5 linked regions of the Homo sapiens genome follow. The protein of the gene in region 3 purifies or fractionates together with the protein of the main gene of each other region. This does not show direct contact. Each region holds a gene or a part of one and is shown on either strand. Other genes may lie near its edges. The genes, in order: DPH6, BZW1, B3GAT1, CASKIN2 and USP24.

What was found.
Region 1: the proteins of B3GAT1 (region 3) and DPH6 purify together in Homo sapiens (affinity purification with mass spectrometry; one large-scale study listed by BioGRID and IntAct). This does not show direct contact.
Region 2: the proteins of B3GAT1 (region 3) and BZW1 purify together in Homo sapiens (affinity purification with mass spectrometry; one large-scale study listed by BioGRID and IntAct). This does not show direct contact.
Region 4: the proteins of B3GAT1 (region 3) and CASKIN2 purify together in Homo sapiens (affinity purification with mass spectrometry; one large-scale study listed by BioGRID and IntAct). This does not show direct contact.
Region 5: the proteins of B3GAT1 (region 3) and USP24 purify together in Homo sapiens (affinity purification with mass spectrometry; one large-scale study listed by BioGRID and IntAct). This does not show direct contact.

Annotation. Positions count from the first base shown.
Region 1 is NC_000015.10:35,446,791-35,453,169, reverse strand, and holds part of DPH6 (diphthine--ammonia ligase), read left to right. Parts: intron 1-2,366; coding exon 2,367-2,485; intron 2,486-6,379. UniProt on the Homo sapiens protein: Amidase that may catalyze the last step of diphthamide biosynthesis using ammonium and ATP. Diphthamide biosynthesis consists in the conversion of an L-histidine residue in the translation elongation factor (EEF2) to diphthamide.
Region 2 is NC_000002.12:200,813,105-200,819,483, reverse strand, and holds part of BZW1 (eIF5-mimic protein 2), read right to left. Parts: intron 6,277-6,379; coding exon of another isoform or gene 6,267-6,276; coding exon 6,203-6,266; intron 4,144-6,202; coding exon 3,967-4,143; coding exon of another isoform or gene 3,961-3,966; intron 3,818-3,960; coding exon 3,723-3,817; intron 3,160-3,722; coding exon 3,094-3,159; intron 2,379-3,093; coding exon 2,243-2,378; intron 1,511-2,242; coding exon 1,401-1,510; intron 1,262-1,400; coding exon 1,091-1,261; intron 730-1,090; coding exon 583-729; intron 1-582. UniProt on the Homo sapiens protein: Translation initiation regulator which represses repeat-associated non-AUG (RAN) initiated translation probably by acting as a competitive inhibitor of eukaryotic translation initiation factor 5 (EIF5) function.
Region 3 is NC_000011.10:134,376,085-134,382,198, reverse strand, and holds the end of B3GAT1 (galactosylgalactosylxylosylprotein 3-beta-glucuronosyltransferase 1), read left to right. Parts: intron 1-174; coding exon 175-261; 3' UTR 262-275; intron 276-381; exon of another isoform or gene 382-1,444; intron 1,445-1,451; 3' UTR 1,452-3,691; downstream 3,692-6,114. UniProt on the Homo sapiens protein: Involved in the biosynthesis of L2/HNK-1 carbohydrate epitope on glycoproteins. Can also play a role in glycosaminoglycan biosynthesis. Substrates include asialo-orosomucoid (ASOR), asialo-fetuin, and asialo-neural cell adhesion molecule.
Region 4 is NC_000017.11:75,501,020-75,506,786, forward strand, and holds part of CASKIN2 (caskin-2), read right to left. Parts: intron 5,695-5,767; coding exon 5,564-5,694; intron 5,395-5,563; coding exon 5,286-5,394; intron 4,911-5,285; coding exon 4,802-4,910; intron 4,633-4,801; coding exon 4,538-4,632; intron 4,055-4,537; coding exon 3,793-4,054; intron 3,675-3,792; coding exon 3,553-3,674; intron 3,462-3,552; coding exon 3,401-3,461; intron 3,288-3,400; coding exon 3,196-3,287; intron 2,944-3,195; coding exon 2,833-2,943; intron 2,742-2,832; coding exon 2,640-2,741; intron 2,509-2,639; coding exon 2,370-2,508; intron 2,236-2,369; coding exon 760-2,235; intron 672-759; coding exon 449-671; intron 152-448; coding exon 61-151; 3' UTR 1-60.
Region 5 is NC_000001.11:55,142,986-55,149,364, forward strand, and holds part of USP24 (ubiquitin carboxyl-terminal hydrolase 24), read right to left. Parts: intron 5,586-6,379; coding exon 5,478-5,585; intron 4,814-5,477; coding exon 4,664-4,813; intron 4,076-4,663; coding exon 3,944-4,075; intron 3,125-3,943; coding exon 3,013-3,124; intron 1,219-3,012; coding exon 1,142-1,218; intron 135-1,141; coding exon 1-134. UniProt on the Homo sapiens protein: Ubiquitin-specific protease that regulates cell survival in various contexts through modulating the protein stability of some of its substrates including DDB2, MCL1 or TP53.

The sequences.
Region 1 (6,379 bases), on a different chromosome or scaffold from region 3:
CAATTATTTTATCCTTGAAACTTCAAAAGTAATGTTACTGGGAGTCCATTGGTCCACAAACTCAATTTTGAATTAGCCTATGCCCAAATTTTAGTTTGTGTTGTATTATTACTAGTTCTTGCTGTCCTCTCACCCAGTGTTTAATGCCTACTAATCAAAACAGCCTCTCTACCTTTTTAAACTAAGATTTATTTTTTTATGGACAAAAAGTTTTTTCTTCCTGTCCTTATCGTAAAATTCGTGGTTGTTGCTTTGAAATTCCTCAAAATCTCTTGACTATAGACTTAAGTAAAATTTTTTAACCTATTTAAGTTCTTTAACAGTTCAAAATATCATGGCTCAAATAAACTTACTCTGTAAATCACTGCTGAATTTGAACTTGTGACATCTATTAAACACTTTACATTCTGCAATTATGTTTGTATTACATGGGTAGTTCACATTTTATTCTTTTTGTATTTATTAACTGCTTCAGCATTGCTTTAGATGTTCTGAGACATTTTAAAAGGGAAAATTACACGCAACAATCTCTGCAATGAGGAAGGTTTTGGTTTTTTGAAAGTCAGGGTATATGTAAATGAAAAAAATAGTGATATTTTTAAGGCCATGTATGAATAAATGACCAAACATGGTACATTTAATAAGTATTGGGATCTCTGAGAGAGAGAGAGAGAGAGAGAGAGATCAATATAGGCCAGAGAAGTCGGCCAAGCAGCCTTACAGATGCTAGGGACGCTGGGTTTTACTTATAAACCTTATAGACACTGGGTTTTAGAGCTATATTCTTGGTTTGAAATCTGATCTCAGCCAGTTAGTGTATGACTTGGGCAAGTCACTTGGCTTTGACTATCATTTATTGAATACCTGTTTTATCCAGGCATTGTACTACATTATCTATATTACCTTTAATTCATTAAACAATTATAGTCCTCTCTGAGAAAGTGACATTTAAGCAAAGGCACGAAACTAGTGTAATAGGCAAGAATGAGCAGGCAGCAGTGAGTGGTAGGATGGAGTGAGAAGAGAATAAGTAGTAGGAAATAAAGTGCAGGAACTAAACAGGGTGAGATCCATGGAGTGATGGGGAGCCACTGGAGGGTTTTGAGCAGAGGAATCCTATGATCTATTTTATGTCTTCTTTTTTTGTTTGTTTGTTTTTTGAGACAGAGTCTCGCTCTGTCGCCCAGGCTGGAGTGCAGCGGCGCAATCTCGGCTTACGGCAAGCTCCGCCTCCCAGGTTCACGCCATTCTCCTGCCTCAGCCTCCCGAGTAGCTGGGACCACAGGCGCCCGCCACCATGCCTGGCTAATTTTTTGTATTTTTAGTAGAGACGGGGTTTCACCGTGTTAGCCAGGATGGTCTCGATTTCCTGACCTCGTGATCCACCCGCCTTGGCCTCCCAAAGTGCTGGCATTACAGTCGTGAGTCACCGCGCCTGTCCTATTTTATGTCTTAAAAGGATCACATTGGCTGCTGTGTTGAAAATGGATTTTAAAAGGGTGAGGGTGGAAGCAGGGAAGGAAATTAGGATGTTGACATGAGAGAGAATGGTGGCTCAAACGAGGTTGTTAGCAGTGGTGTTAGTGAGGAATGATCACATTCTGCATTGTGGTAGATTGGATGTGGAATGCGAAGAAAAGGAAAGGATGATTTCATTTCACATTTTTTAATCCTCTTAAGAACTTTGAAAGGAACTATTTTTGCCCCTATTTATGAACTAGGAAACTAAGCACAAGGACTTAGATTTTACTTGACTTCAAAAGCCATGCAGCTAGAGTACAAAATGAGGTTTTAAATTCAGATGTGTCTTCACTCCAAAACCTATATTTTTTCTACTTTACCAATAATGGAAAATATCTAGTACAGTGCCTGCAGCATTGTACTTTTTTTCTTACTATTTTCTTTTTATTCAAATTCTTAAAAAAAAATTCAAAGTTAGTAGATAAGAATAGTTCACATAACTGTAGCTATTGTTAATTTAATAAATATGTGGCTATTTTATTAGGATAAATTATTGGCCCACTTTACATATGCTTCAAAATTTTGATACCCATGAAAGTTTTAAAAATGAGAGTATACTGGCATTTGTAAATTCTTTTACATAGATTTCTAAACTAAGAGTCTTACTAAAATTAATATTTCTAGTGTGCCTGGAAATTTCATTTTTATCAGTTTATGCATAACCCATGGAAATTAAATATGTTTATGTTGTATATATAAACATTATGCAAAATATGTTTTTAAAAGCATTTTCAATGCTAAAATCCTTGAACGAAGCATTATGTTTCAAATCAAAGTAATTGCTGTGGATCCAAGTATAAAACATTAAGAGATCATCTGACTTTCTTTTTCTTTTTCTTTTGTAGGTGTAAAAGGCTTAATCTCCAGCCTTTAGCTTATCTTTGGCAGAGAAACCAGGAAGATTTGCTCAGAGAGATGATATCATCTAACATTCAAGCAATGATCATCAAAGTAGCAGCTTTGGGTATGCAGCCAAACTATCAAGGGAGCTGTTTGTTGCCACATAGATGATCTCAGTTCACTAATAAGTAGTTAAAATGAACAAAGAAAACTGATTTAGAATATAAAAATGTGGAGTCACAGCTGAAGAAATTGAGTAAGCACCTTCCTTGCATAAAGAAAAGGAAGTTTTAAAGTGGTCTTTTGACCATTTGCCGAAGTGATTACTAGTAAGGCTTTTTTTTTTTTTTTTAACATATAACAGGTTCTAAAACTGATATTGTATTATAGTCCTTCATTTTAAGTTCTTTTTTTTTTAGGGTTTGGAATTTAGGCTTGTAGGAAACAGGAAATACAAGGGTTATTTTTGTTTTGTTTTGAGGTTTTTTGGAAGCTTTTTATAATATGTATTTGACACAAAACATTTTCCTTGTATTTTTTAGCATATTTTGAATAATGCTAAAATAGAATGATGGTTTTGTTTTTGTTATAAAAAATAAATAGGGTACTGGTTTTTGTTGGGGATGGTGAGAAAATCATGTTTGAGAAAAAGTTATCTGATTAGTTAGCATAGACACAGCAGGCAGGTGGTAATCTGATTCAAGTATGGACATTACATATGAGCACATTTAATTTATTTGGAATTTCTATAATTATATTCATTTTTGAGAAACCGTAGGGTTTGAGCCCAGTCTGTTCATTTCGTGAACCTGTTATAGAAAATGCCCTGAAACCTGAGAGTTCCCAAAGCCTAAATCATGTACCTCATTTGAAAGTGTTTACCTTGCAGATCTCTGAAATAACAAGGTCTCAAGCTGTAGAAGATTTTACAGATACATTCAGTTTTTAAATAAAATTAAGAGAAATAGTACAGACCCCATAATATTTCTCCATGGTAAATACCAAGCTACTGTATTCTTGCTGAAGTTGAGGTGTTGTCTTCAGTTGAAGCCTTTATTTAGTGAATCTGTAGTTGATCTCCTTAGCTGTTAAAACAAGAAAGATTGAGTGATATTATGTTTTTATTTCTGAGAAAAGGTTGCTGAGCAGCTCTCATGATTAACGTTATTATATTTGTCATATGAATTTCTATGTGACTCTGTACAGAGTATTCCCTCTTGCTTTTTCTTTGTCTCTCACTCTCTCTTTGAATTTTCTAAGATTACATAATTCCATAATGAAGTTCACGTGACGTCTCACTGAAAGGTACACATACTATTCCTTTTACTGCCCGATAGATAAAAGACTGGATTAGGACCCAGAGAGACCTCCCTTATTGAAAAGATAGTCAAAGAATTTGACCTTATTGCCATCTTTTAATAGTATATAACCGATATTGTGTGTTCTTTCATTTCTATCTGTGCCTCTCTGTAGGGATTAGAGATGGGGAATTAGCTTTATCAAGCCTTTGGGTAAAATGTAAAAACTGAGCTGATTTGTCTTTGGCATCTCAGTAACAAAAATATAGATCTGATTTTAACATTTACAGCACTGCCTGTGTGCTGACTGCCTATAGGTGTGCAAAGATGAAAGTTATTCTTTAGAATAATATTAAAGAAAGGTTTATTAAATGGCACAGTACTTCTGAAGACATAGAAACATATAAATGATGCAATATAGGTTGCTAAGCCTTTTTCCTCCCATTTAAAATTATCAGAACAATTTTAAATGGATTTAAGCCAAAAAAAAGGGACTTTTTTTGGATTTAAGCAAAAAAAAAAAAAATGAGACAATAAGACCTTTCTGTGGGGGAGAGGGATCAGTAAAATTTTGTGGACCATTTTTCTATGAAATGGTCTTATAATAGAAAAAGGTCAGTTCTACATGAATGCATACAAATATATTTTTTATAATTATGGTATGTAACCTTTATGTCTTATAGGCATCAATGAACTCATAAAATTTCTGGCTTCTTTGTTTCATTATAATGTTTTAAGGGACTCATCCATATTATTGACTGAAGCAATAGTGTGTTTATTTTTATTGTAGTATAGTGTTCCCTTGTGGGAGACTGTAATTTAATTAAATTTAATTAACACCACAATTTAATTGTCCATTCTATTATTGATGACATATAGGTAGTATCCAGTTTGGCACTGTGATAAACAGTGCTGCCACGAAGTGGTCATCTTACACATTTTCTATCCCAGACCTAGAACATCCTTTTTTTCAGGAAGCCCTGATTTCTTTGAATGTGAAATGATATATGTCTGTATGTGTATATCTAATGACTCATGAGTTCATGATATTTCACAATCAAATTCAAGACAACATAAGGATTATCATAATTCTGTATTCCATCACTGCACTCTTTCTTCCACAGTGAATCTTGATTATCAAGGTCACAAGAGATATTATTTATTAGAAAATCCCATAATTTTTGGGAACAAAAAGACCAAATAGCAGATCTATTATCCATTCTTTCCAGTAACTGGGGTAGGCTTCCTGGAAAGAAAGAAGAAAGAACTTCTATAATCTTTCTATAAACATATAATTATAGACCTCATGGCAAAAAACAAACAAAGAAACAAAAAATCACTAATGGTATTTACTAGAGGGGAAGAGTATCTTTGGACTGCTTTTAGCAGGATATATCTAGTTGCTAAAAAAGAGAGAGAAATGATAAAGGAAAAACGTGAGACCACTTTTACCTATTACTGGAAAACCTCCTGTTTCTTGAAAGATATATTTGTTTGCAAAGTAACTAAATTGATCACTAGAAAAACTATACTGGTTTAAGGGTTAGTTTGTTCAGTTAAATGATGGTGTAGTAACATTGACTATGAAAGGAAATAATGCTAGGACTCTACTTATAAGCTTTCTAGGATTGCGATATAGGAATGAGATGATGGGGGAGGAGGCAAGTACACAACTATATATCTTTCCCATTTCGTAGATTTTTTTTTTGTTAGTTTTGCCTGATCCAATGGTCCTAGGCTCGAGTTTAAAGTTGCACATACCAAAGGAAAGTGTTGTCAATGCACAAAACACAATATCAATACATTACATTGACAGTGCATATTCTTAAAGGCCTTTAGGGGTATGGATAACTTCACTCTGTGTAGGCAAATTAAGGCCTATCCATAAACACAAGCCAAGTGTCTTGTGATTCTTATCTGTCAAATCCTGTAATATCTGCCAAGGAGAAGTGCTAACAAGGCTGCTGTTTTACTGTCCCTGTGGGTTTATAATACAACCGTTGAGCCAGTTAGCCCAATCATGGGGAAAAGGGTGTGGGTCAAAACAGGTAATAGATGGAAATGGCGGGGGGGGACGTATAAGAGATAGAAAGGCATTATAAGTGAATTCAAGTTCTGTGGAGAGCTGTAACCATGTGACCTTCCATGGCAGAGCCTCAGAGCTAGAAAATAATAAGGTATTTGGTATCTCTCCGTGGTAAATACCAAGCTACTCCATTCTTGCTAAAGTTGAGTTGTTGTCTTGGATATCTCTCTCAAATTTGATGCTCACCTAACTGATGTTGAGAGAACACTCTGGATGTGTTTTCTGGAGAGAAGGGAAATTGGTGATGTATAGCTCTACTTAAAGATTCCACCTATGGCCTGTAATCCCAGCACTTTGGGAGGCCGAGGCGGGCGGATCACGAGGTCAGGAGATCGAGACCATTGTGTCTAACACGGTGAAACCCCATCTCTACTGAAAATACAAAAAAATTAGCCATGCGTGGTGGTGGACGCCTGTAGTCCTAGCTACTCAGGAGGCTGAGGCAGGAGAATGGCATGAACCCAGGAGGCAGAGGTTGCAATGAGCCGAGATCACGCCACTGCACTCCAGCCTGGGCGACAGAGCAAGACTCCGTCTCAGGAAAAAAAAAAAAAGATTCCACCTATGTAATCTAGAGGAATAAAATGGCAGAGTGCCCCTTGATGACTCAATGTAGGAGCAGTTCACTACAGTT
Region 2 (6,379 bases), on a different chromosome or scaffold from region 3:
TAGAGGGGGGGAAAAATTCCTATTTTCCAATACCCCCTTCAAAAGCAAACATCTAATTACAAGCTGAAGTTCCTTTTCATCATGTTCTTTTTTTTGAGGCAGGATCTCACCCTGTCACCCAGGCTTTGTCTGACAAAGCCATCATAAGCTCACTGCAGTCTTGATCTCCAGGGCTCAAGAGATCCTCTGCCTCAGCCTCCTGAGTAGTTGGGACTACAGGCATGCGCCACCACGACTGGCTATTTTTTGTGATTTTTAGTAGAGATGAGGTCTCACTATGTTGCCCAGGCACGTCTTAAACTGAGCTCAAGCAATCCTCCTGCCCTTGCCTCCCAAAGTGCTGGGTTTACAGGCGTGAGCCATTGTGCCTGGCCAGGCCATATTCTTGTTTTTAACCTGTGAACCACAGCCCAATTCAGAGCATTATCATCAATAGCTAATGTTACTATTTGTTTATTTACTGGTGGGCCATCCCTAGGAACCACAGGATGTGATAAATCCTCTTAGAAAAATATAGTCACAGTTCACTTATCACCACGTGAAAGCAGAATAGTTTGTTTTGTCAAGGCATAGTTCTAATACCTTCAAGTGCTTGATGGCTTGCTCTGCTACAAGCTCCTCTTTTTTGTTCCATTCCACAGTGCTCATTACACTTGACCAGACTATTCCGATGACAACTGGCTCTGGGATGTTGTTTTTTTTCATCTCCTCCTTGACATATAAAATTATCTGCAAATGAATCCAAATTTAGTAACAGAAGTCAGTTTTGATTATGTACATACTTCACACATCAAGTTTAGACCTTTAACAAAAACTAACAACTCCTTTTCCATGCAACTGGCAACCACATGTGTACCACATATAAAAAGAGACCTTTACAACTGAAAGGTGCCCTGAGCTCCAGTCTCTTGTATTTCTGGGCCTCAGTCAGGCACTGAAGAAGCATATGCAAAAGAATGAGGCAAAGTTCCAGTATAACATCCTGTTACTATTAACTCAATCTCATCCTGGTGAAGTAAGTTCCTCAAATTAGTGAAAATCTCTATGCCAGAAGCTTAGCCATAAAAAGACGGTTTAAACAAAAACTTACATCCTTAAATGGATCACCACGGGACATCTGTTCTTGAAGTTCTTTCTGGAGCTCCTTACGAGCTCCGATGGTTTGCTGATTCCGAACATATTCTGAAAGCTCTTTCAAGCCTGCCTCAGTAAAATATTTTGTGAAGTGTTCAACACTTTGCTTATTGGCAGGAAAGAGTTCCTAAAAGAAGAATTTATCTGGTTAAACTTTCTTTAAATCAGATTAAGAAAAACACTTTCTTTTCACAGTCTTAAAAATGAGAAATTTCTCTCATTTACATCCTTGGCAAGAATGGGAAGAATGAAAAAAAGTTACCAACCATCAGTCTGTTATCCATGCTGACTTTCCGAAGACTTGCAGCTACTGCATTGATATCTTTTTCATTTATCCATGATTTAAAGAGCTTCACAGCAAAAGCTGCTGAAACTCCTGTAAAAGAAAATAGCTTAATTAACAGAAGTACCTTCCCTGGTTTCAATCACTGTGTCCCCCTATATCCTTCCCTTCATAGTTCAATCACATGGGATTACTGACTTTCCTCACAAACTTAACCCTGAACTTTCCTGGGCCACAGTTTATCACTTCTCCAATCTCCCTAGTCTACCACTTGCAAATTGTATATTCTTGGCCAAGTTACTTAAAGTGTTTTCCAAAGTATAAATTGAGGGCAACAGTCTCTACACTTGACAAGACTGTTGTGAGAATTACAGTAAGGTAACTTAAATACTCACTACTGCAAGCAGTTTTTTAAAAAAAAAAAAGCTTCAAAAAAATTACTGTAGAGAATAATCCGACAATTGGAGCCAAACAGGGAACTGATTTTCCCTTCCAGCTTGACATTTTCCCCAAACGTCATCTTCTCCAAGTCTCCCAATTGGTATTAATCTCTTCTGGGGTTCCCACAGCATTTCTCATTTTATTTTTATTACATATAACAACATTTTGTCTAAATCTGGGTATCTGTTGTATGCCTAAAGAAAGCCATTAAACCTGGATGCCAAAGGTATTCATTAAATGTCTAGTGAATTAGACTGAACTTATTAAATTTAAGGCTGGTTAATAAACGAAGACTTTCACAGAAGTCACATCTATGAACAGTAAACCATGCTCTTATCCACCCCACTCTGAGTCAACTGAAGACCATCCTTTAAGGCTGATTACCTTCTTTAACCAAATTTTCATTATAAAGGCTATTAAGAATGGATGCATTAAGTGTTCCATTAGCCAGAAGAACACCAGTCAACATAGCTAGCTTGTTCCTCTCCGACTCTGAAAAACCCTTCAAGAACAGCAGCAGCTGTAAAAAGTAAAACAATTAAGGGTTAAAACAGCAACTGCATTACAATAAGAGAAGCAGTAAAGCATGTTATACTGGCTACCTGTTCAATACGTGGGCTCTGGGATCTAACCATCCAAGTTTACATCTAAGTTACAATACTCATTAGCTGAATGATCTCGGGCAAGTTACTTAACCTCTGCACCTCACATGTAAAATGTGGATAATAAAACTTGCCTCACAGGGTTTTTATAAACATTGAGTGAATTAGTATCATTAGAACAGTGCCTGGTGCTTGATAAACATATCAAGTTTTCTGGGCATCTATATGCAATATTGGGCCAGGCGTGTTGGCTCACACCTATAACCCCAGCACTTTGGGAGGCCGAGGGCAGATCACTTGAGGCCAGGAGTTCAAGGCCAGCCTAGCCAACATGGTGAAACCCTGTCTCTACTAAAAACAGAAAATTAGCTGGGCATGGTGGCACATGCCTGTAATCCCAGCTACTCGGGAGGCTGAGGCACGAGAATCGCTTGAACCCGGGAGGCAAAGGCTGCAGTGAGCTGAGACTGAGCCACTGCACCCCCAGCCTGGGACACAGAGTGAGGCTCTGTCTCAAAAAACAACCCAAACAAACAAGCAAAATTACTCCAAATCTGTGGCGGAATTAGGATTTAACATTCCTCTTTCTAACCCTATTTTTTTCTTTTCCACAAAGTACATTATTACTCATACCTTTTTTACTTCATCTTCAAAACCTTTCTCCAGGTATTTGTAGCGCCTGATTAACTTGTTAAAAACCTATGAAGAACATTAAATGAATTCAGTAACTTCATATATTTCTAGAATAGCAAAGTAGTAAACCTTTCACTCGATGTAAGTTTATGAGCTGCTTAAACCAGCTTGAGAAGAATTCCTAGTGACACATAAGAATGTCCAGGTTAGATGTACTTTAATTCTTTGCTTACAGTAACACAAACATAACTACGTATGAAACTTTCCAATGAGATCTTGATTAACAAGCTAATCAGCTCACAACTCATTTAACTTTAAAAATAAATGTATGCAGATAAACTAGAGAAATCACAATACGAAACTGACTTTTCCAGCTTGACATTTTTCTTAAAAATTGAGTAATTTCAGGACAAATAGGAACAGAAGAGTTAATTTCATTTTTCCCTATTTTGTTCGCCTTAACACACCTTAAGTTTCTAATTCATCCCGTTGCACCAAGAACAGTATCCCTAAAATTTAAAATCAAATTCCTTCAACTTTCTAACCACAACTCTTAAAAGTAGAATATTCCTCAAATATACCACATGGATAGTAGCCAACTGAAAACAATTATGTAAAGTTTCATTTACCTGAGCAAATGCTTGCATGGTCTCTAGATCTTCTTGGGCTGCAAACACGCAGACATCTGTACGCATCATGTCATCTGCCAGTGTACCACCTGGGGCTAAAGTTGGATAAAACCAAAATACAACAAAACCAAAAAAATCACTCCATTTTAACAAGTTTGCCAAATAGTTCATATTCTAGACTCTCCATAATCTCCATATATTATACCTTTCTAAATTATTAAGCCCACAAACCACAGACACTTACCCAGCATTCCACCAGCCACCAGAATGTCAAAGAGTGTTTCTGCATATCGACGGTAATCAAGTTTTGCTCCAGAAGCATCAAGAAACTTAGCTACTGCTTCCAAATCAGTACCGGTTTCAGTTAAGCCTTGAATAATACAGTCTTGAAACTGAGTAGGGTCAAACCTCTCTTTTTCATCTGGGGGGACAAGGGACCCAAAACATTTAGTTTTAAAAGATTTACCAAAATGCCACAAAACTATCACCTTATGAAGATGCAATTGTTAAATAAGTTAGATTAAATTCACATCCTTTGCATGTTTCCCCTCTGCAAGTGTAAGACAAGATGGCCCACTCACAAGAATTGTGCAACTTTTCAAATAATTTCACAAGTGATCTAAATGTGCTAGTGTCTTGTGTTCCTACTGCCATAAGCCAATTTCTACTGGGAACGCCCTCCTACTGCCTCTTGGCTTTTCCAAAATTTAGGCCATCCTCTAACAGGTACATTTTATTCCTTTGGGTTTTGTCCAGACACTGGAGCTCTTGATCCTTTTCCTTAAATGTCCATAATATTAAACAAACAAAAAAATTGAACCAATCCTTTGGCATTTATGAAGGTGAGCTTTAGAAAGTACATTTAATGAGCACCCAATGACAGAAACTATATTAAGCATTTGCTTTAATCCTGTTAACAACCTTGTGAGGCAGATTTTTCCCCCTATTATTCAGAAGGAAAACTGAGAGTCAGAGAAATTAGGTAATCAAGAGACTATATTGTGTAGTAGTTCAGTACATGGGCTCTGGAGTTAAACTGCCTGATTCAAATCCTGACCACCATTTAACCACCTGAATTCAAGCAAATAGTCTCACTCGCCATGCCAGAATTCCCCTACTGTAAAATGGGGATAAGAATAGTACCTATCCCATAAAGTTGTTGTAAATACCAAATGACATTAATAAAATAGAAAGCTCCCAGACCACAGCCTTGTGCACATACCTGACCTTTACTGAGTTGCTTTCACACACTTCATAATAGGGTTTTGCTTTCCCAATCTAGGCTAGATGACATCTGTTCACACAGTACTAGGGTGACAAACACCTCTGAGTGCCCAGCACTTTCCTGGTTTTAGCACTGAAAGTCTTGTGTCTGGAAACTCCCTCAGTCCCAGACAGGGAGTGTTGTATACCCTACCCAGTACCCTAACCATCAACAGCCAGGCCACGAATCATCTCTATCTGGAACCGGGGAAGTTACATCTCTCCCTGATGCTAATAATAAGAATGCTAAAGCTACTTGCTATTATTTGTATCAAGGTAACATCAGTAACCCACATATTCAAGAGATACACTTTCCCATTTTACTGCCAAACTGTTCTAGTTTACAACTCCAGCTCCTTAAGAAAATTTACCAGCTAAATCTAAATGAATCTGCAAAGATTAGAATCAAATCACACTTTGGTCTCCCCACCACTACTACAAGGGGACAGACAGCCTATGATTAGTGATTTTAAAATTCTACAATATATATCTCAAAATGTCTGCTACTTAAGGAAGAAAAAGAAAAACACAACTTATAACCAGTAGCTGACCTAGTTCTTCATTTCCTCAAAACCACCTGTAAAACAAGGTTAATATGCTTTTGACCAAAAACAGTAAAAATATATCTGAGACTACGTCTTATTTAGCTTTATATCACTAGCACAGCACTTTGCTACAGAATTCAATACTCACCTAAGTACACACTAATGCAAAAAAAAAATAGTAATATAATTCTAATACTTTTTCTACTAAGTCTGTATTTCAAAAGACATTACAATGTGAATCCTGTTCCACAATTAACTTCCATGGGTGAAGTCTGAGTTTTCTCTCACAAATCTTCACAAAATCTGGGTGACTACATTAGGAGTTCTCCTTTTATAAATTAACATTTTTGCTCATTTAAGTTTGCTTAAATGAGACTGCCTGCTAGTGAAAACAGAGCCCTTATTTTTATTTTTAAAAATATTTTACCTTCACACCGAAAAGAAGATTCACTAACCGGCTTAGAGATATATTGATACTAAAAATTAAGGCTTGAGCAGTAAAGCAGTAGAAATATTAAAGGTGTATGTGAAATGGCAGTCAACGAGAAATTCAAGTTTCTTTCTGGTATCTTCTTTTGAGGCTTTAGTAATATGCAAGTACCTGTCAGAGAAGGCAAGATACACAAGATGTTCTGGAGGTTTGAAGAGAGACATTAAAACGTAAATATTTACCTCTTTTTCTAGTTTTAAAACGCTGGCCTGATAGCGTTGGCTTTTGCTGCTTTTGATTATTCATAAAAGACACCCTAGGAAAGGAGAAATAAAGCCTTAATATCAGTGCCATAATACTAATTTTTAAAGCAAAACATCAAACCTTAGTCTAGTCACATATGAATCAAATGGAACACC
Region 3 (6,114 bases):
AGCCACAGAAAATAAATAAAAAACAATTGAGAAAATCTTGATGGAACAATTGAAAAACTCTCGAAGGAAAAGGAGGGGCAGGAGAAATGTTTACACAGTGTGGGAGGGAGCAGGGAGGCAGCAGAGTGAGGTCAGGGGCCTGTCCCACCATGTTTTGCATCTCTGGGCACACAGATCCTGGTGTGGCACACACGGACAGAGAAGCCAGTGCTGGTGAATGAGGGCAAGAAGGGCTTCACTGACCCCTCGGTGGAGATCTGAGCCTCAGGATGCAGGTATGGGCATGACGAGGGTGGGCCACACACTGGGCAGGGCGGCACCAGGTTGGGCCGAATCAACTGTCTCATTCTTTTCCTCTTGGGCTTTCACTGTGGAGGACAGGGCAGATGTGGGCAGGAGTGGAGGGCGTCGTCACCACAGTCCCCTTCCCACTGGGCCACCTGAAAGTATCCAGGCATTAACTTTCACCCACGCAGCTGGGTCCTTCTGCCACCAGACTCTTCAGAGGGTGTCACCTTCCAAACATCTTGCTGATTTTTCTGCTGGCAGTGACGCCTGCACCCCACAAGGCACTGCCATTCAGACTCTCGCTGGCCAGCGTCTGTCCCCCCAAGTCTGCCTCTTCCCCTGTGGATTCCTTCACCACGTGGCCATGGTGAGGACTCACGGACTCGCTGCTCCACAGCAATGAGCCCACGGCTGTCATAGTGAGAGGTAGCGCAGAGTGACAGCACGGACCCAGAGCCCACCTCAGCTCCCAGGACCCCTGCTCTTCACTGTTTGACCTGACTTGACTTTTCTGGGCCTCAGTTTCTTCATCTGTGAAGTAGGTTGCTGAGAGCACCTAGAACAGTTCATGGCACTTAAATCTCATCAGTGTGGCTATTTTTATTCAAGTCTTTAAAGCCCTCTCTGGAAGTAGGCCACAGGATCCACCTACACTTCAGAAGCAAAGAAATGATGTTGAGAGAAGCTAAATGAATGTTCCAAGGTGACACACTGGCACGAGTGAATTGTGCTGGGTGGTTGGCAAAGCCAGGCATTTTCAGGGGCTTTTCTGTGATCTTATCCTGTCTCTTAAAAGCAGCTGGTACTCCTGACTCCCTACTCTAGGTTATGCCAAACAGAGGTTGAGGCCTGAGACAGACATTTGTCCTCTTGCCCTGGAGCTAAGCAATAGCTTCTGTATTGTGTTTGCCCGCAGAGGACCACAGGGTGTCACTCAGTCACCTTGGCCAGCGCCACTTAGAATGCATCTGTACCGAGCCTCACTTCTGCCTCCTGCCCTCACTGCCCTCACTGGAAGCACCTTCCCCACCTGCCCCTCAGAAAGGCCCCCACAGGACCTGGGGGCCTGGGCTTTGCAGAGGTCCTGGTGGCCCTGCCTGGCCATTCCCTCCCCGGCCCCACCCTCAGCCGACACCTCACTCATTCCTCCTCTCCCCTCACAGGAGCCTCCTCCTCAGACCCTGTTCTTGGCCTTCCATCCTCTCCCCACGGCTGATGGTCCCTCCAAGGCCGACTCCTAAGGAATCACCATCACCCTCCTTTCTATTCTGGGGGCTTCTGAGAGAGCCCAGCCTGATGCCAGAACAAAGGACAGAGAATTTAAGCACAGAAATCCCAGACCTGTTGTTCTCTCCATCCAGCGTGACCAGGGCCCGAGAGACCTGATGGCCAGGGTGGGGTGTCCAGCACCAGCCAAGCTGGTGCTCCAGCGCACCTCCCCAGAGCTCCCCGCACTGACGGGGCTGCAGGAGCAGGTGCAGTGGGCGCCCACACTGGCCCTGCAGTGATGCAGGGCGGGAGGGAGATAAGAAGACCCCGCAGTCAAGTGGAGCATGGCCCTCCCTGGCTCCCTGTCCCTGGGCTCAGCACGACCACACAGGACACCCAGCCAGGGAATTCTGAAGACCAGAGAGCAGCCCACGGGCATCACGAGCGCTCTGCTCCTCTCCTGGGCCCCTGCTCTTCCCGAGAGCTGCCCCCAAATCAGACATACCTCTGTGGCTCTCCTCTGGTTCACGTTTACAGAGCATAAGGCTGTCTTGGATCCCAACAGGCACCCAGCCCTGCATGGGGGGAGCCTGGGCCTAATAGGCACCCCCTGTACCTCAGGCTGTGGCGGGAGCAGAGTCCCCCCCTCCGGCCCCTCTTCCTTTACCCCTTCTCCTCCAGCAGTGGCAAAGGGGTAGGCTCTAGAGCCAGCACAGGTCACTGCCTGACCTGGACTAAGAACCCCACGGCCCCACTGTCCACACACTGCCTCCCCACCGCCCACCTCGGCTGCTAGGCCCCTCGCCTGGACTGGACTGGGGAGGGAAAGCGCCTTTTCCTGCAGCTCTTCAGAGCCACAGACCTCAGGGTGGAGTGAGCCCATGGTGGGCAGTGGGCAAGGCGGTGGGTGGTGGGCAAGGTGGGACCTCCTGCAGCCTGGAAAGAGGAGGGAGGCCAAGGCCATTCCCTAACTCCCTCCTGCCCCTGGTCTGAGGAGGAGGGACTCTGGAGTAGCAGAGGGGCTGGGAAAGAGGGGGCAGGGGCTGCTGGGACACTGAGCAGGAGGGAGGCCTGAGCACACTGCTTTGGAAATTATTCTAAACACAAAAAAGGGAAAGAAAATGTTATTTCTCCCTAAGTCAGGAGCATGCAGAGCTAGCCCACCTCATGTCCAGCTGTCCACTTTCCATCCTGGAGAAAGAACAGTGTGCCTCAAACTCCTGCCCTCCCCAGGCCTCTGGGGCCCACTGGAAAGGGCTCTGACCCCCTGGCCCAGCCGGGCTCTCTAGTGGTGATCCGGCTCATTCTCCTGCAAGTTGGAAGCACAATTTTCCCCCCAAGTGGAGGAAAAGGAAAGGGCCCCAGCCTACTGAAGAGGTGTTTATTTTTTAACTAACAGCCTCCCACCCCATTAAGACTCACCAGGAGAGGTCTGAGGGCCATTCAGAACCCACTCCTGAGTGGGTGGGTGGGTGGGACTCAGTCCAGAGACCTAACATTCAGAATATAGCATTGGTTGCCTATTTTGAGATGGATTTAATCTCCCACAGTATTCATGAGACCATCTGATGGAATCAGATCCCTGAGCCACCTTGCAGGACGTTTTCCCCAACCTCTTACACCCTGGATGTCACTTTGGAAACCAAGCCCTTGGAAGCAAGTGGGGTGGCATGGGAGAGAAGGGAGGAGGTGGGCACAGGTGGTGAGCTTATGTGTGGGCACTCTACTGCCTCACAGAAGCCAGCCAAGTGCCAAGGTCAGCTTGGCTGGTCTGAGGCCACCTTCTTAGCCAAAAACCTAGGGTTCATTTTCAGGACTTTGATAATGAACAACAAAATGGGGACTTCTTTGGGCAGATGCTAGGTCAGTTGTTTTCACCTAATATCCTCTTTTAGCTGCATGTATATTTATTTATAATTATAACCCTGGTGGACTGCAGCCTTCATCTTTATTGGGAATGAGTTTGTTATAAATCAGAAATGGGTCCATGATGACCACTGTTTTCCAAACCCAGTCTGTTCCCTGCTCCCTCGCTGGCAAGCCCCACCACACAGGAGTGAGGCCAGGGGCTAGGAGTTCTAAGAACAGAGGCTGGGGTGAGGGTGGCACCCAGGCAGCTGCATCTGGTCTGTTTTAATTTAACTGTATTTAATTTGCTTTCAAAATTAAAAGTCAAATACAGTTTTTAACAGTCCTAATCCTCTTCAGCCCTGCCTTATTTTGTTCTCATTTATTAATTTAGCTACCCAACAAGTATGTATCAGGTGCCTGTTATGAACAGGCATCATTCTAGGAGCCGACACACAGCAGTGAGAAAACAAGGCTCTCATTTTCAAAGAACTGACCCACTGACGAGAGGAGACAGGCAATAACGAATGCATATTATTTCAGATGCAATCTGTTGTATGGAGGATGAGGGTGAGTCGGGGAGACAGAGGTAGCAGTGGAGAGGGTCAGTGCTCTGTAGGGTGACCACAGAGGCCTCCGTGATAAGTGACCCTTGAGCGAAGCAGCAACACCCTGACATGCAGCTCCCCGGGCCCAAGAAGAACGAACTCTCCACCAGGCGGAACAAGCGTTGCTCAGCCTGCTTACAGATCAGCAGGAAGGCCATCGGGCTCAACTGACGGGGCGGGGGCTGCTGGGGGCAACAGCAGTGAGGGATGTGGTGGGCGTGGGAGAAGGGAGTCCCCAGGCACCGGGTGAAACCAGAAGGCAATAGGGGGTCCAGTACGGAGGACTAACATAATCTATCCATCTCTAAGAAGAACTGCCCTGCTCCTCCACGGAGGATAAATGGAGAGGGCAAGGGCAGGTGGAGACGTGGCTCCTGGAATCATCCAGGCCAAGATGCAGTGGGCTGAGTGGGGGCATGGGGTTGGGGCAGAGAGAAGCAGTCAAATTTTGGCCAAGTTTAGGAGGCAGAGCCAGGAGGATCTGCTGCTGGATTGGATGTGGGAGATAAAGAGAGGGGTCCAAAATAGCCCGAGACACAGAACAGCACTGCCATTTCCAGATACAGGGCTGCGTGCAGGAGGGGTAATGTGGGGAAATGGAGCTCTGTGTCAGGTGCCTGTTAGACACATGCAGAAGAAAATGCGCCCCCACACACCTGGAGCTCAGGTGCAGCCCAGCATCGGCGGGCGCGGGTGTCCAACCTGTTTACAAACCACAGGTGCACGGGTGAGACCCTATGCAGTGAGTGTGGACAGAGGAAAGAAACAGCCCAAGGAGTGGGCCAGAGACCCCCAGCATTCAGAGGCTGGATATGAAGAGGGATTCTCCAAAGAGACCTAGATGAGGCCATACCGTGTGGAAGATAATGGAAACATCTTTAGTCAACGCTGGAGAATAAGCTCTGCCAAGAGGTACTTTGATAGAGAAGCTGAGCAATTAACTGGCAGAAAATAAGGGTGAGAATAAGAAGCTGGTGTAGGAAGACCTCACCTTAGGAAACCACAGTGTGTCCTGCTCAGGTCTGCGTGGAAGTGTGATCCAAGGGGCTTCTCCACCTTACAGGAGGATTTGCAGGAAGGTTCCCTTCCATTCCATCACTTTCTGACGGAACCAGCTCATACACAGCTCTGCAGAAGCACACACTCAGGTAAAGCGGGGCAGAAGACCCTGCAGGTGGCTCAGGCCACACCCAAGTAGCCCGAGTCTCATCCACATCTTAGCCCCATGCTTGTCGTTCCGAGGCAGTTCCAGAAGAACTGGTGAGTTTGGGCAAAACCAGGGACTCTGCCCCATGTTGTTCCCAAGCCACTGTCCACAAGCTTTCCTTTAATAAGCTCCATTTAATAAGCCCTTGACCCGGCTCAGCTGCTGGGCTGCACACCACGAATGTCCCCTGCACTCCCCCTGGGCAGCCACACACGGGCAGCAAGCCTGCTGGCCTCAGTGAGCTCCACGGCTCACCATCCCCCAGCCCACCTTCACGGGGCTCCCAGAGCTCTCGCTGTGCCGGGGATGTGTGTGCTACTTGACTTTCTGACTCTTACTGGAGATAATTTGGTTTTGGCAGTAGATGCCAGATGTAGTTTGTGAAGCAAAACTCAACCCCGCAGTTAACTCATATGGAGCGCCCTTGACTGCCTGGCAGATTCTTACCCCCGCCCACCAGCATGAGAATGAATTTGCATTTGAACTGTCCTCTCCAGGGCACTTCCAATCCAGAGACATTTGAAGGGAAGTCGGGGTCAGGAGGGGAATATGAGGCCAGGATCATGGCCCACCCACCCCAGGGACGGTCCCCATCTGGACCCCCAGGCGGCAAGTGGGGCCCAATGGGAACCTGACCAAGAAAACCAAGCTCTCAGACAGCCTTCCCTTCTGGCAAGAGTGGCACACATGACCAGAGACTATCACCAGAGGGGGTGTGATTCAAGGTTATAGCTTTACTGCAACTCAGGACAGTGAGCCCAAGCCAGGTGTTGGGCTGGGCCCCAGAACAAGGCTCAAATGCGGACTTGGACACACTTCGAAGGAGGGCTGCTCTGCCCCTGCTGTTCGGGCGTGGGGGGTGGGGGGCGGGGGCCACTGAGCTGGGCCTTCTGTCCTCCTCCCTGGATGTGCAGACATGGGCCATGGCTTCTGCCAGGACTCACATGTGAGCTG
Region 4 (5,767 bases), on a different chromosome or scaffold from region 3:
TTCTGTGCTGGGGCAAAGGCAGTGGACTTCGGCAGGTCACAGTGGGCACTGCTGGAGGGCTCAGTCCAGCATGGCGTCCAGCTGGTCAGCCAGGGCGTCGAACATGGTGCTGATGTCATCCAGAATGTGCTTGGTGGAGGCGCTGGGGGTGCTGCAGCAAGGGGAAGGATGCGGTCAGATCAGCCAGTGGCCTGCACCCCACTGGCCCTGGGGCAGGGAGCTGTCATAGCTCCCAGAGGCTCAGGGAGGCAAGGGACCGGCCAGGCTCCTGTGCCTCTTAAATGGTAGCCACCAGGATTCCCTGATCTAGGTGATTTCAACACCTGGCCTCTTATCCCGTTAGTGCCTGCAATGTCCCCCTCCAACATCCCCATGATCCCTGGGCAGAGGATGCAGGGAGCACTGTTTCTCTGCAGCCTTCTCTCCCTCCCCATCCGGCCCCCCTCACCCCTCTTGCTCCTTGGTGCCAATGCTCTTCTCTGCGGCTCTCAGTGCAGCTGCCAGGGACGAGCTGGTCTGCTCCAGTCTCTGCTGGGCCTGGCCTGGGCCCACAGTCCCAGTGCTCTCAGGCCGTGGAGGAGGCACTGGGCGGGGGCCGAGCCGGGGCGCTAGCTTAGGGCCAGAAAATGCCAGCTGGGTGCAGGCCACCGACACAGGCTTGGGGGCTGTTCCTGCAGAGACAAAAAGGTTGGCTTGGGACTTGGCTGGGTCAGACACAACCCTGCCAGCAGTGACTCTCCCACAGGCCTCCCCTCTTACCTGCTCCGGGCACCTTGAGGAGGGCAGCAGGGGCGGCCGGGGGTTCTGTCTCCCCATTCCACCGACTAGCTGCTGAGCTTTCCAGACCTGGCCCTGGGCAGGGCGGCACTGGAGGCTGCATGGCGGGGCTGGGAGCAAGGGGGGTTGGAACTCCTTGGGCTGGAAGGCTGCTGGGCTCGGGCTGGGGAAGGCTAGAAGCTGGAGGAGACTCGCCAGGAGTTGGGGAAGGCAGTGGGGCAGCGGGGCCAGGCGTGGCACTGGCCACTCCGAAGGCCAGCAGTGCGGTCTGCAGTGGCTCTCTCTCCCGGCACTTGGGCCTCCGCTTAACAGTGTCTGATTCCGTGAGGTTGAAATCGAGGCCGGGGGGCACGGGTGTCTCTCGGGGCGGGGGGCCAGCGGGCTTCGGGCGCTGTTTGATGGTCAGGTTCCCTTCCTCTGCAAACGGCAGCCCTTCCCCAGAGCTGCCCCGAGATGGGGGCGTCCCCTCAGGGCCTGGCTCCTCCTCCTCCGTGTCTGACGCGGGCCCAGCCGGGGCAGGTGGGCCAGGGGGCTCTGAGGGGCCAGCAGGTTCACTCAGTGTTCGCCTTCGGGGCCCTGTGGCCCCTTCCTTGGGCCCTGGGCTCTCATCTAGTGGAGGTGGCTCCGGGCTGGGGCCAGAGACGGAGCTGAGGCGCTTGGGGGGCGGGGGCGGGGGGCCTTTGCGCCGGGCCCGCAGGGCAAAGGACTGGCTGCGAGGAGTCCCCCGAGCTGGGGTTGGGGTCACACTAGGACTGGTCCGGACAAGGGCACTGCGTCCTGGCCGCCGGGTAAGGGTAGCATAACTGCCTAGGGTGCTGCCCACTGGCCCTTCGGCCTCCCCCTCAGCATCCCCCTCTGTGGGGCCAGGGCGGCTTAGGCTGTGGGACCGGCGCTTAGGTCGAGGCGGGTCTGGGGGAGTGGCAGGGGGCCCGGCCAAGTAGGAGAAGGCCCAGGGTGCGCCAGGAGGTGGCCCTGGGGCCGGGCTAGAGGGTGAGCCCTGGGGGTACATAAAAACATAGGGTGGGGGTCCTTGGCCAGGAAGTGAAGAACAAAGCTTAGGGGGCCGCTCTGTGCCCTCTGGGAGGTTCCTCTCCTGGGGGGGGCTGGGATCTCCACCGCTGGGCTGTGGGGCAGGCTGTTCCTGTGAGTGGCCAGACCCCCGTGAGCGTGCCCCGATGCTCTCCTGGCTGGGAGAGCGGGCAGGTGGGAGGGGGAGTGGTTCAGGGCCACCCCCTGCCATGGCCGCCTGTAGCTCTGGGCTTAGTTCGCTGCCCTGGAAGGTGAGGAGCCGTGGGCCAGCTGTAGCTGGGCCTTCTCCGTTCTCCAGTCCCTCGATGGCCATCAGCTCCGGACCCTTGGCCAGCCGGCGCCCGCCTTCGCTGAGGGCCTCCCCCTGCAGCAGGCCCCGCCGAAGCTCCGCCAGCCGCTTCACCCCCAGCATGAGCTTCTTCTGATGCCCTGAGATGGGGGACGGAAGTGGCAAGGTTAGCTGGGGCTGGGGTTGTCCTGGTCACCGCTGGGCCCCATACTGTCTTCTCTTGGAGACCCCGGAGGCAGGTGGGGGCCCAGCCAGGCCTCAGGACAGTCCTTACCGAGCTTGTTGACCCCAATCTCCTGCAGCTCCTCCCAGGTGAGGTCGGCCACCAGCCCCATGGAGTCGTAGCCGCTGCTCACCAGCTGCTTGTGGTACTGTGGCAGCCCCAGTGCACACAGCCACTCCAGCAGGTCCGTCTGGAAGAGCACCGTCCTCAGAACAACTCCCAGCCAGCCTCCGCCCCCAGCCAGAGGAGAAAAGGCACCGCAAAGCCACAGCTGAGGGTGACAGCACGTGCCCCACTCCCCAGCCACCCTTGATGGCTCACTGGGATGTAGCTGGGCAGCCACTCGGCGATGCTGAGCTGAGCGATCTCTGAGGCGATCTTCTTCCTGTGCCCAGGCTTGGTCACCCCGATGGCCGTCAGGTCCTGCCACACAAAGTCTGGCCATCAGGCCCCTCCCCCGCCTGCTGGGCCCTCCCCCGCCCGCTGGGTGCTGCTTCCCGGCTGCAGCACCCACCTCAGGTGTCATGCGGCTGATGGTAGGCACATCATAGCCGGCCTGCAGAAAGTGGGCAGTGTAGCCCTCCAGCTGGAACTCGCTTAGCCAGTTATGAATGGCCTGCGCGTCCTGCGGGGTGGGGGAAGGGGGCAGAATTAGCAGGAGCTGGACCAAGGCCCTAGCCCCCACCAGGGGCTCAGGACCTGCCTGAGCGGGGCTTCAGTCCATACAGAGGCTCTTGCCTCTACCCTGCCCTACCCACCCCGAGGCCCACAGTGCACCCCGTGGAGGTCACACCTTCCCCCCCGAGGCCCACGGTGCACCCCGTGGAGGTCACACCTTCCCCCCCGAGGCCCACGGTGCACCCCGTGGAGGTCACACCTTCCCCTCCAGCAGCTGTTCTGGCCGCACGTCCTGGGTGAAGATCTGCTCCCCAGAGCGGCAGTTGGCCAGAGGGCGGTGGCTCAGGTTGTCTTCAAGGAGAGAGAAAAATGGAATGGAAAGGTGGCAGGAGGAAGGGGTGCCCACCCTCGGCCTCCTTACTTGCACCTCTCCTAGCCAACCCAGGTCCCCTGACCCTTCCTACCTGCCAGGGACGGCGGGTGGAGTCCTGGCAGCACCTGGTCCTCTCCAGCAGAGGGCAGTGGCTGGAGGAGACAGGGCAGGAGCCAACTCAGCATTTGGGGAACTGGCAGTGGGGAGTGAGCCCTGACCTGGTCCGTGACCCCATCATCCTACCTGGGCGTTCTCAATCAGGAGGCCAGGGCCATGGCCATTAGTGCCCTCAGAGCTCTGCCCGCTGCCGGCACTGCGGATGCTGCCCACGCTGCCCTCACTGCCCACACTATTCCTGTCACCTGCTGTGGGGGGCAGAAGCCAAGGGGTCAGAGTCCCAAGTGTCGCTCTGACAGCTGTCTGGCAGCTTGCCCAGGCCACACGCCCACACAGTGCCCAGCACTGCCCCCTGGGAGGATGTACCTGGGCTGTCTGGGCTGAGGCCCACCCGAGGAAGCTGGCTGTAGGTAAGAGGGTGCGGGGGTTCTTCGGCAGGAGGCTGCGGTGTCCGGGAGAAGCCTGGGCGCAGGGGGGTGGGTGCGGAGGGGAGGCGGGCTGCAGGGATGCCCACCCGCTTGCTGACCACCTCGACAATGCCCGGGGGGAAGTAGCCTATGCGGTCTGTGCCCCTCTGGCTCTCGTGGATGTGGCCCTTCCAGCGGCCGTCGGGATGCTGTTCTAGCACCTGCGGCCAGGGGTGGGGGGCGGGGACGGTCACTCCCAGCACCAGGCAAGTGGCAAACGGTTGTCCCTGCAGCTGCGGTCCGGCAACCCTGGTCCAGCTCTTTCCCTACCCCTAAGGAGCTGGCCTCTGATGCCCACACTGGCCCAAGTTCCGCCCCTGCTGCCAGCAGCCAGCTCAATCTCCCCTGTGCCTCCAGGGCGAGCCCCAGTGGCAGCCCGTGGTCAAATCACAGCTCCACTACTTGCTAGCTGTGTGACCTTGGGCAAGTCACTTGAATTTCTCTTGATTTTATTTTGTTTAATTCTCAATTTTGTCATCTGTAAAGAAGAAATGCTAACAGCACTGCCTTCCCTGGCTTTAAGAAGAATTAAATGAGGGTGCATATAGAGACCTCAGAGCAGAACGTGGTAACATAGCAGGTGCCCAAATAAGTAACAGCAATCATTTGTATTTGCAAAGGAATGCCTGCTTGGGGTCCCTCACCGTGATGACATCCCCTGCCCGGACATTGAGAGCAGTGGGATCGTGGAGGTTCCAGAAATCCTTGAGCGCTCGGACCTTCAGGATCCCTGAGGCCTCTAAGAAAACGGGGTGGGGGACAGGTGTCATCTAAGGGTCCTTAGGGCATCTTCCCACCCCTCATGCCCTTGACAACCCTCCCCCAGGGACGTCCACTCCCCCTCCACATCCTGGTACCACTTGAGCGGCCCCAGGCCCCCTGGGCAGGGTATCCTCCCCCGCACTCACCCCGCAGTAGCTGCTTGATTTCCCGGCTGGCCTGGGAGGTGGTGAACTGATTCACTATGTCCAGCGCCGTCTGGTTATACGTATTCCGGATGTTCACGTCCACACCTCCCTGGGTGCACAGTGTCACATGAGCACACGCTAAGCACTTTGACACCCCTCACCCGATTCTCTCAGCTACCCGGGACATAGGTACTATTACCATTTTCCGATTTTACAGATGAGGACATAGAGGCTCAGGGACTCAGTCAAGGACAAGCTCAAGTTCACTCAGCTAGTAAGAGGCAGATCTGGGGTGCCAATCAGGTTGGTCTGCCCCCGATCCATCTGCACCGCCTCGGCACCATTCAGAAGGAAGTCAGGCCTCTTTCCTGACGCCCATGCAAAAACCACGCTGGAGTCCTCCGTCCCGTACCTCCCCAGCCAGTCAGGGGCACAGGGCAGAGGCTCCATGGACACCTGCGAGGGAGCAGGGGCCCATACCCACCTCCAGAAGCAGCCGCACCACCTCGGTCTTGCCATACAGTGCGGCCTCGTGGAGCGCCGTACCCGTCTTGGTCTGGCGGTTGATCTCGATCCCAGCTCTCAGGAGCTGCCTGCAGTGGACGGGGGGAGTCACGGGGGAGGTGGCGTAGGAGGGGGTGCTGACTGCTGGGGGCCTGGGAGATGGAGAGCCCGGGTGAAAAGGGCAGTGGGGGAGAGCACTGAGGGGCACCGATGGTCCCGCAGGCAGGTGATGAGGAAGCGAGGGGACCCCAAGGGTACCTGATGACTTCTCTGTGGCCATTCTTGGCAGCCAAGTGCAGGGGCGTGGTGTAGTTGGGGTCACACGGGTCTTTGGCCTCACCCTCCAGCAGTGCCACACATAAGTGGCTGTTCAGAAGCAGCTGGGCCACCTGCAGCACCCAGTGCCCAGTTAGAGCCTCCTCCTGAGACCCTGTAGATGTCCAGGACCCAGCACCCCAAGGC
Region 5 (6,379 bases), on a different chromosome or scaffold from region 3:
AATCTAGGATTTAGATTAATGTAACTATAGTTTATGATTAGCTGAATAGCTTCATTAGCAATTTCTTCATCAGGTGATTCCATGGCTATTTTCCAAATGAAATCCATTCCTATCAATTCCAGCTTTTCTACATACTGTTCAAAAGAAAAAAAATTAAATTATAAAGCATATCAAGATCACAAAGTTACAAAATCACAGATAATTATTTTGTTACATCATGAGTCCACACCTCTTCAGTTCAATATGAATTAAGGCTGCAAAACCTCAGCTATATGAAAATAATATTATACTGATATGGAACTTTAAAAAGCAACCAACCACAGAAGCACTGGGCAAATTCCACGGGAACCAGGATAGGTACAGAGATATCTCTTCAGACATCCCTAGACCCAAACTGGACACACAGCCCAACAGGCTACTGAAGCAGAAATAGAGCAGGAGTGAGATGGGCACCATCTTCAGGAGCTTTTCTTCAAAAGGAAACAGTCAAGCCAGAAGTGGTCACTAATTCTTGGGGCTCAATCTGGTCTTTCTAAAGCTCAGTAGTAAACAGTAGGACCCAGGGCTTGTAAAATCTTGTAAAAATTCTAACCACCCAGGAAGCCATGTCCTGAATAAAAAGGACTTGGAAAAAGAGTTAATAAGCCTTTTTTTTTTTTAAAGGAGCATGTGTAAATATAAACATAAGCTGTACATCCTAGTTTTCCTGCCTCACTGTCTATTCCTCAATTTTTCTCCCCAAATCCCTGCCACTGTGATCCCAGGACGAAGACTGTTCTTGCTTTTTTAGGTACATGTGAATTGCTGGATCTGAGGAGTTCGAAGCTTAGGTGAACTATCCCTGCTCTGCATTCATGTGGCCACAGGAGGCCACTGGCTGTCCCTAGATCAGCCAGAAACAGAGAGATGTGAGAGAGAGCAGTGTCCTCGCAGGTAGCTGGTGAGGCATGGTAGTGCAGGTAGGAGCCTCCCTTACACTAGGAGAAGCTCTGTCATCAACATAGAAGCTGGCAGTCAAGGAGATGCTGTTCTTTACCAAAAAAATCCATGTTATCTCTCAATTATAACACTTTTTTTTTTGCTGAATATCAAGTTATACTAGATTATCCAAACTATCTAGATTTGAGAATAACGTACTTACCAACTGAGCTCCTTGTCTTTTCAATCGATGATCACAAAGATTCACATTTTCAAAAAAAGTTTTAAATAAGTTAAAACCTGTAATTATAGAATGCCAAATAAATTCATGTACTCTACGTAACACAGATAATCAATGAAAAGACTCAAAGTGGATCAAGAACTAAAACCATAAGACTCTTGGCATTGGCTTCTTAGATATGGTACCAAAGCAGAAGCAACAAAAGAAAATATTAGTAAATCAGATATAATCAAAATTAAGTGCTTCAAATGACATTAACAAGAAAGTGAAAAGACAACTCACATAATGGAAGAAAATACTTGCAAATCAACTATCTGATAAGGAGCTAGTACCCAGAATATATAAAGAACCCTTGCAACTCAAGAATTAAAAGACAAACCAATTTTAAAATGGGCAAAAGATTTTAAGATTTCTCTAAAGAATATAAACAAATGGCCAATAAGCACATATAAATAGATGCTTAATATAATTAGTCACCAGAGAAGTGCACATTAAAACCATTAGATTTGGCCGGGTGCGGTGGCTCAAGCCTGTAATCTCAGCACTGTGGGAGGCTGAAGCAGGAGGATCACCTGAGGTCTGGAGTTTGAGACCAGCCTGGCCAACATGGTGAAACCCTGTCTCTACTAAAAATAAAAAATTAGCCAGGCATGGTGGCATGCGCCTATAATCCCAGCTACTCGGGAAGCTGAGGCAGGAGAATCACATGAACCTGGGAAGTGGAGGTTGCAGTGAGCCAGGATGGTGCCACTGCACTCCAGCCTGGGCGACAAGAGTAAGACTCCATCTCAAACAAACAAACCAAAAAAACACCCATTAAATTTTGATACCACTTTATACCCATTACGATGTCTAAAATAAAAAAAGGCAGATAATAACAAGTATTGTTGAGGATGTGAAGAAATTGGAACCCTCATATATTGCTGGTGGGATTACGAAATAGCGTGGCACTTTGCAAAACAGACAGTTCCTGAAAGGTTAATTATATGTCAGAACAATCTGACTTCTAGATATACATCCAAGAGAAATGCAAACTCGTACCCACTGAAAAACTTGTACATGAATGTTTACAGCAGTATTAACCGTAACACCCAAAAAGTGGCAACAATCAAAATGTCCATTAGTTCAAGAATGGATAAATAAAATATGGTATACCCACACAGTGGAATATTATAAAGCCATAAAAAGGAACGAAGTACTGATACATGCTACAACCTGGGCGAACCCTGAAAACATTATGCCTTAGTACAATGAAAGAAGCCAGAGACGACAGATCACAGTGTATGACTCCATTCATATCAAATGTCCAGATTAGGCTAATCCATAAAGACAGAAAATAGATTAGAGGCTGGATAAAATGAATGGAAAGTGACTGTTAATGGGTATAGGTTTATTTTTGGGGTAATGAAAATGTTCTGGGATTGGAACAGAGTGAAGGTTACATAATTTTGTGAATATACTAAAAGCCACCATTTGTACACTTTAAAAAGTGAGTTTCATGGTATGTAAATTATATCTCAATTTAAAAATTCAATGAAAAGAAACATCTGAAAGGAGGATTTCTATACCTTGATACATTTTTACCTTAATGAACCCTTTTGTACTAAGAAATTTTAAAAAGACAATTTGGCAATTTGATCTAGCAGGCCATATGATTTAAAAACTAATTATAAGATACCATTCATGTAGAAAGGAATTTGAGTACTAAATATGTCTTTAGATGCACAAGAAAAATTCTAGAAGGATATTCCTAACTGTTTAGTTGCTTCTGAGAAGGAGGATTAAAAGTAAAGGAAAGAATAACACTTCTTACTTAAAAGTACTGAAAAAAATGATTTTAAGTTTTTTCCTACCATTCATAGTGATTTCATATGACTCCAATTTAAGAATTTTCTCCTTGAAGAGCTGCTGCTGAACATCACTCTCAAGATCATGCTGTCCTTTTGTAAACCATTCAAAACACATCTGTGGAATAAGACGAATATCACCCTATAACTAAGATCCATTTCAGGCACATACATATTCCAAACTGGAAAAGTAAAGATACATTTTAATACTTCAAATGTTTATACTGTCAAAATACCACTCAAAGCTAAAATGCTTGGAATTCTGAAATTAAATGAAGCAGTTACTAGCAATCTTTCTTCTAGATAATAAAAATATCTACTCATACTTTTCACTGGATTTTATACTTGGGTTTTTCCATCAACATTTACTGCCTGCTTACAACAGGCACTATGCTGGGCACTATCACAATAGTGAAGCCTTTCGACAAGTCTAGGAAGTAGTTAATATTATTCTGTCAAATAAGATGAGGAAAATGAAATTTACTCCTAGAAAATGTCAAGGCAGGTGTTCTGTTCCTGATTTAATCTATCTTTGGCTGCTTAATTATAGTTTACAAAAAAATGTGGCCAGGTACTAATTCTTCTTTACTGTTTTTGGGGTGCAACATCATTATAGGAACTCAAAGTTTTCTGTTGGCAACTTAAAATTAGTTTCATATGGAAGGGAAAAAACTTAAATATATCTAGAATTCTTTATACTCATTTGGTTAAATTTGGTATTTTATCCAGAATGGTATCAAAATTACCAAAGAACTCATACATTTATTTTTATCATGAATATATGTTATATAAAACATTTTTTCAGCACTTACAGTTCTTGGCCCATACTATTTATGCTTATATAAACTGAAAAGTGTTTAGAAGATGTGAGACACACAGAAAAAGTGAAATATTTAAATATTTCTGCCTTACTTTATCCACAATACCACCTTCTTACCTCTCTATCTAATTCACAAACATCCTGGCCAGTTACAAGACACTCCCAGATCTCCTTGGCACGATTCCAGCCCAGATACAGAGTAGCTTCTTGCAAGAAAAACGCTAGAAATTTTAGATGTGCCTCTAAATACTGCAAAAAGAAATAATGCTAATTAGTTAACTCCAGGCATTCATTCCTAAAAGCAACATTAAAACAAAACAAAACTTTAAGTTTTAACAACAGTTTTACTTAATCCTTTTTCATATAATTTAGGGTAAAGTAAATATTAGAATTCTGTTTACAAATTGATAGTACAATGTAATAGAAGCTATCTATCTCAAGTCTATTAGAAATTCAGTTGATTTTGGATGTCAATAAAATGTAATTTCAGCAATCTCAAAGTAAAACACTACAAACTCACAACTGGTGAGTTAAGATTTTTTTCCTAATTTTTTAAAAAACAATAATGTTACTAATCAATTGATTTGAAAAACAAAACCCATTATCCACTGAATTAGCAATTATTATTTCAGATCAAAGACAAAAAAAAGATGTTTATTCCTTCATCATATGAAAGATAACTCACAAACACCAAGATACAAAACTGTTCCCTCACTACAAAGATACCTCATACAACCTCTTTATAGTTACAGCTAACAAAAATTCTTTTTATAGTATAAGTATAAAAAGGTCAAATTAATGTTGTAAATCATGAAGCAAAAACACAAGGCCTGATACCTCCCGGTAAGTGTACCGGCCATCCACTAGTGTCGAGCCACTTAAGCCTCCAGGCCCGGCCACAGCAGCTGCAAGCCGATGACAAGCGATCAAACTTCCCGTTACCAATTTCACTATTTCAAAATTCTTCTTCAAGTCTTGAATAATGCTCTTGGCGAAAATAACAAAAAGAAAAGTGGTAATGAGAATTTGCAGTTATTTTGCTGGTTTAATACAAGCTGCTATTTAAAGATGTAGTCCTAGATGAGACAAAGCAAACATAAGAATTTCCTCATTCGTATTTCCTACACAAAAGTAAATAAAATCAATCTGGTATGTACATTTACTAGAAAATTAATAAACTACTAATGTTTTCCATCTAAAAATATTCATTTTATTTATTTTTTTAAAAAGCCTATAAAAATAACTATTTCACTTCCTGTATACTTTTCTGGATCATCCTTCCCAAGTCTATACATTGAGGAAACTCTAGTACTTTAAGCAAACTAATCTTTTTGTGATACAAAACAAGCAACAAGCTTTTTAATCTTTTCAAACCAATTTTTAAAATGCCATTCTAACTTTTAAAAACTGGCTTAACTATTTGAAAATTAAGCAAATAAAAAGAAAATGAGTTAAGGAGATTAAAAAAAAAAAAAAGCTCTGCAGAAATGAAAGCAGAATGATGCTTAAACTCAAGATTATTAGATGATATAAGTGAATTACATCAATAAACATAAAGATAGTGACTATAAACTCAGCAATTTTAGCCATGTTTTGTTATTGTAAAAGTTATGCAAGTAACTATAATAATAAAAAATAGCTATACCCTTACCTTGTCTTGCTTTTGATAGGTTTGTTTTATGAATGAGCGAGTAATTTCATGGAGCTGACGCAAAGCTGGTACCACCCATACAAACTGGGGATTATTAAGCTGAGATGACTAGAGTTAAAAAGAAGTTACATTAATTAAATTTAGAAATAAACAGCAGATTCATTTATTAGCTATAAAAAATTTCAAGTCAATCAGGTTTACTGTTACACATTTTATTATTTTACTCTTTATATTGACCATTTAGAGCTTATCTCCATGCACTCATAATTCAGTCTTCAACTTCTTATTCTGCATGCAATTTCCTAAAGCTAAGAACTGCAAACAGGAGTGGATGTGAAGTGACAGTAAATGTACAGGGGTACATCAGCAAAAAACAGACAACAAGGAATTAGCAACTTCAGAGGATAGATTAAGTAGCACAGGCTGCTAAGTCATGTTGACACAAAATAAACTGATGGCCAAAGCTTAACTTGGATAACACTGAACTGCATGGTAAGTAAAATGGAGTAAGAATATTGCTTTCTATGATTATATGACTAGGATACCAATGATATGATCAAGACACTGGTAGTGGTCTAAATATTAAAGAAAATATTCATAATCTGTATTTCCTAGTTAAAACACTTTCATAAGAGGTAATTCTATTTTTATTATTACAGACATTTTACACTTACACTGTACATTTTTCAAAACACTTCCAAATATATTATTTCTGAAACTGGTATATGACAATCCAGATCGTCATAGTACAGATCTAAAAAGTCTACTGTTTGTGTAATACTCTTTATAAAGAGAACTACTTTTTAATAAATAGCATCTTTCAAACTATGAAATTTCAAAATTTGGTAAGAATTTCAGTTTAAACATGACTATTAAATCTCTAACCAAAAAGCTGAGTAAAA